Linked DNA regions of Homo sapiens: region 1 is linked to region 2. The links come from fine-mapping of genetic effects on gene expression. Tissue or cell type: whole blood. Region 2 holds a variant in brackets; the other region holds the start of a gene. All regions are shown on one strand. Distances are from middle to middle.

The links. PIP is the estimated chance that this variant, and not a neighbour inherited with it, causes the effect.
Region 1: PLXNA4 starts here. The variant in region 2 is fine-mapped to the expression of PLXNA4 in whole blood (TOPMed, PIP above 0.99). The same link has a PIP of 0.9 or more in blood mononuclear cells.

What each region holds. Positions count from the first base shown.
Region 1 is chr7:132,575,204-132,577,885 of GRCh38, forward strand. PLXNA4 (plexin A4) reads right to left here and starts at 1,267. Exons shown (of 32, transcript NM_020911.2): 1 at 1,219-1,267. RefSeq lists enhancers at 1-728, 729-1,706.
Region 2 is chr7:132,754,677-132,757,358 of GRCh38, forward strand. No RefSeq gene overlaps it. Among named protein-coding and RNA genes, the nearest start is that of FLJ40288, 110 kb to the left of the region's middle. The variant C/T (reference allele first, on the strand shown) is at 1,089.

The DNA.
Region 1 (2,682 bases), 180 kb before region 2:
TAGAACCCCAGCCACTTCCTACCTCCTCCAGAAAAAGTTAAAATGAGCAGCCTGTGAAATTCCAGCCAGAGAGAACAAGAATGAAAATGCTTTCGGGAAATAGGACCTTAAAGCACGGGCGTCTGGGGAGTGATTCTACAATCGGAGCAGGCTTGGGCTCTGGGGGACGCTGGCAGACCCACGAATGCCTTGCCTTCTCCGGTGGGCAGTGCCGCCACGGTCGTGAGGGAGGGGAGCCTCCTCTTTTGGAGGACTATATCCCTCGTGCTTCCCCCTTCTAGTTCTCTTTCTCAGACACACACCACGAAAGGCATGTGACAGGTGTTCGCCAGCCGGAGGCACCGGGGAAGGCAGCCCCATGTGCCCAGGGAGGGTAGGGAGGTGAGAGGGGACCCAAGTCCTGTGTCTCCAAGTCCTGTCTGCTTGCTGCTAAGCAGGCACTGAGGCTGTGAATAAGGTCTTACCTTTTAAGGAGGATCTGACCCCCGTACCTTCCCTAGACAAGCAACATACGCGGCGATGCTTTAAGCCGCTTTCTGCCTGAAATCTCGGCGCATTCCCGGGGAAGCAGTGCCACGCTTCAGAAAGGCGTTTGTGCTGCCTCTTACTGGGGAAACGCAGTGTCTGTTTCATATGCGCCGCCCTACAGAACTGCAGCCCCAACCGCCTATCTGGCCTCCTCCCCGGGCGCTGGGCCACCACTCTCTCCAAATATGCGTCCGAATATCTGTGGGTCTGTCTCCCGTTGAAATCCCAGGGTGTCCAAAGGCCACGGGGCCGCGATGACACTGGGTAGGTCTCCGGAAACCTCTCAGGACTTCTCCCATTTTAAAGCCCAGCTAGGGACGAAAGGGGCTGGGAGCTGAAAAATTGCTCCCTCAACCTCCCCGGGTGGGAGGCAGAGCCGGGAATACACAGAATCCCACCCCGAAAGTCCCGGGAAAGAGAAGTCTGAGTCCAGGAGCGTGAGAGGAGAACACACCCGGGAAATCCCTGCTCCGGCCGCTGCACCTCCGCGGGCGTCCAGGTGGGACGTGGGCAGGTGCGCGAGCGCCGTGTGTGCCGGTGTGGATCTGTGTGTGTGCCTGCGTGTGTGCGTGTGCGTGTGCCGCGGGCTGGCTCCGGGACACTGAGGACTCCCGGGTCGGCCCAGGTCTGTCCGACCTTGCTGCCCTCGCCGCCCGCCCGGCCCCACTCCCCGGCGGGCCGGCTCCTTACCTGGACGCGCCGCGTTTCCCTCCTTCAGCGGGAGCGCCGCATTGACACTGCAGATGGAGCCTATGCCGCTGCCTCTCGCCCTCCTCTGAACGTGTGCGTGTGCGCGCGTGTGGCTGCCTCCTCCAGCCCCAGCCCCGAACGCAAATACTCCACCGAGGCACAGGGAAGCCGGGAGCAGCCGAGGAACGCGGAGGGCGCCGAATCAGAGCCTGCGGGGCTTGACAGCTTCTCTTGCGGCGTCCAAGGTGGGCGTAATGTCCAACAAAAAGGTCGGAAAATGGGGATCGATTCCGAACACCCCTTTCCTCCACCCAGCCCCGGAGCCCGAGCAGCGGCGGCGGCTCTCGGGGGCTGCGGTGGCGACGCCGGGCTGCCCCCCTTCGTCCCCACCCCCGCGGGCTGAATGTCCTTGATGCCAAGCGGGCACAGCGGCGTCACTCCGCGCCGCCCATGCTCGCCCGGTCGGGCCGCTGCCCGGGCGCGGCGAGTGCGCGGGGGACCCGCCGGGGAGCGCTCTCGGCGCCTCTGCGCGCCTCTCTGGGTAGCGGCGGCCGCCCCCCGGCAGCCCGCGGCCGGCCGCGCCGCGGCAGCCCCCACCCTTGCCGAGACACTCGCCGGGCAGTGCCCTGGGGCCGGGGCTGGGGGGCCGCGGGAGCCGCCGGCTGCTCCCCGGGGAGGCGCGGGGCTGCGGCGGTGGTGGCTGCGGCGGCTGGCGCTGCGGCGGCGGAGAGCTCGGCCGCGGGCCGAGCCGGGCCTCCCGGGCGCGCCCCCGGCCCCCCGGGCGGGCTGCTCGCAAAGTTTGCAGGGGGCAGGGAGCGGGGCCGCCGCTGGCTCGGCCGCCGCCGGAGCTCCCGGGCTGCCTGCTGCCGCCGCGGCTCGCTGCTGCTGTGCATTGAAGCCCGGCCAAGCGCTGCAAAAACTCCAGCTGCCTGGCGCTCTCTGGGTCCTCCTCTCCTCCCTCCCGCCCTCCCTGCTTCCCTTCCTCCCTCCCTCGCCTCGCCTCCTCTCCTCCCTGCCGCCCGCCGCCCGCCGCCGCTCCCTCTCTGGCTCGCTCTCGCTGGCTCGGAGCTCGCGGCTGACATCTAGAGCGAGGGAGAGCGGCCGGCAGAGGGGGCAGGGGGCGCCTCCCTACATGCTCCCACCCGCCGCCGCCCGGCTTGCCGGCTCTCCTCCGCACCAACGTTTGCCGACACCCCCCTGGGTCCCCTCGGCCCGCACGGAGCTACCCTGGCGGTGGCGATGTGGGGCGGAGAGAGGGGCATACATGGGTGACCGGAGCGCACGGCGCGCGCTCAGAGGGAGGCGCTCAGCCGCCTCGGAATTTGCAGCTCTGGGCGCTGGCCGTCGGAGGGACCCTCAGGTGCTCAGAGCTGACACAAGCGCACACTGACTCTGAGGCATACACCCATTGCTAGTCAGAACCCCTCCCAACACCCCACCAAGTCACCCCCACATGGCACCCAA
Region 2 (2,682 bases):
TCCCACATTCAAGGCACCAAATGAGGAGACCCACAATATCATTAACCTCCCCAAGGTCATGACCAGTTTGCAGCAATACTAGGATCAAAATCCCAGGCTTCTGACTCATCTTCTGTTCCTTCTCTGGCTCCCTGTTACCAACCCATCTTTCCACCCCTATTCCACCCAGATGCTGTGCCCATTTCACCATGGAAATCAGAGTCCTCCCTCAAACAAGAACCTACTACGGTCATCATAACTTGCATATTTCACTTAGGATTTCCCTTCATCCTGGCAGCAGTGAGTGCTTCCGCCAGAGCCCAGCTTTCTCAGGTAGTCACCACACTGGAGGCTCCCAAGGCCCATCACATGGGGAGCTTCTGTGACGCCTGCTGCTAAAAGCCTGTGTTCCAAGAACTGTTTCCTAGATTCTCATGTTCAATCTAGTTTCTCTGTCTATGGTCAGTTAGCTTCGGCACATAAGCCAGCATTTAAAAGGCGTTCAGGTGGTAAATGATTCTACCCACCTGTGTAATTGAAGAAACAGTCATCTCAGTCATCCGCAAGATCACCCTCAATTCTGACGCCAACTGTAAGGTTTGACGGGTTCTCAAGACTACCCATAGGTTTGATAATTTACTAGACAGACTCATGGAACTCACTAAAAGCTGTTATACTCACAATTATGGTTTATTACAGCTACAGGATACAGATTAAAATTAGCCAAGGGAAGATGCACAAGGCATGAGGACTCTTCCAGCCCCAGCTTATCATCTGCCCAGGTCCTCCAGCAAATTCCCTTTCTCCACAAGGAACAGGGCACATGGCCAGGGTCCTTCTCAGCTCTCTTCCCTCCATCTCCCATCTTGCTAAGACAGGACCTGTCCCAAGTCTCGCCCTCCCAGGGTCCTGGTAGGGAAGTAGCAAATTCACTTTGTAGAAGGAACTAAGGCATTACAACTAATAACATTGCCAGATGGCATTTGCCCTTTAACAAGGCTCCGAGACCTGACCTCAAAAGAGACCAGTGGCAGAAGAGATGCTTCTGCTTTCATAGGGAGTTACCTGGTGCCAACCCCACCCACAGAAGCAAAGAGAAGGAACTAAGG[C/T]GTTACAACAAATAATGTTGCCAGATGGCATTTGCCCTTTAACAAGGCTCCAAGACCTGACCTCGAAAGAGACCAGTGGCAGAAGAGATGCTTCTGCTTTCACAGGGAGTTACCAGGTGCCAACCCTGCCCACAGAAGAAAAGAGACCCCAAGAAATTGGCCAGCCCAACAGCTTTATGCCATCTGAACCCTGCAAAAGTCACAGAGATGTAAAACAAGCTGAAGAGATTCCATAAGTCACCTGGGGGGGTGCCATGCTCCAGACATTGCAGAGTCTGGTTCTAGAGGCCTGGAGAGGCCCATTGCCTCTGCTTCACCTCTGCCTTACCTTGCCTCAGCCATTTTCCCCAGTAGCAAAAGGGCCCTTCTGCCCTCTGCTCCCAAAGAACCTGCCTGAGCAGGCCCAGACCCTGTGTTCTCCAGCCCAGCATTACCCTGGGAAGTTCGATGGGGGAGGCAGGGACTTCATCTTTTTCATCTCCAAGTGCCACAGTGCCCTGTGGATAACAATGGCATCCACAGTGCTTAGTGGACAAGAATGGCATTGCCAGCTCCCCACAGCTGCACCAGCCCTGGCTCTGATCCCAGGCTGCAAAAAAAAAAAAAAAAAAAAAAAAAAAAAAAGGCAGGCAGGCCACTAGCACTCACTTATTTCCCAAGGATTAGGTCAGCCCCACACACAGTGTCTTCCAGACACTGGGAGAGGCCAGGTGCAGACCGCCAGAGATTCAGTGTAAAGCCTGCCAATCGGCCAATACCAGATGTTCAAGATGAAAATCTCATCTTCCCAAATGCTGAAGGGGTCCAGTGGATCAGGGACACTTGTCCCCAGGGTGTCCTGGCAGCTGAACTCAGCACCTTCTCTCCCACCTGTTAGCCATGAGGGCAGAGACACCTAGTATCCAAGGGCCAGGAGACACAGCACAGGAGTGGAATGCACTCGACACAGACGATTACCTTTCAAACGCTCCTCCTTCAACATCAGAACAAAGACTAGCCCAGTGGCCCAGACTTCCCTTACCACTTCCTTTATTTAGGAGGCCATGAACCCAGTCCTTCTTCTCAGCCCTGCCTCTGGGTTCAGGAACCAAGGCTAGACCTGCTTGTAGCTAATATGTGCCATGTGGCTTTTCATCTCAACTTTGTCACTTATTGTCTGTGACCTTGAGCCTTTTAAACTCTCCTCTGCCGATTACTCCTCTCTGAAATGGGAGTAAACTAACTTCCCAGAGAAGTCCTGTGGAGGAGTGAGGTGACACATGCCAAGAAGAGACAGGAACACCTGGAGATGCAGCAAACACTATTTTTATTTCATACCTGAAAGCAACAGTCTCTCTATGGAGTCGGCTGTGTTGGCTTTTACGCCCATAATGTTTGTGGTCGGATCATGTCTGTATTTAAACTAAACACAGTATTTAAGCCACCAGAAATAAGAAAACAAAGAGGAGAAAATTCCATCACATAGGTTTTTTTTTTTACTTCAGTCTATTCATCCAGATGGTGATAATTAGTGGGCTCGCCTGTCTGCACCTGTCATTGTTTATGTACGCGTTCTACCTATAGGAATGTGCGGGGAACTTTCTAGACGCATGAA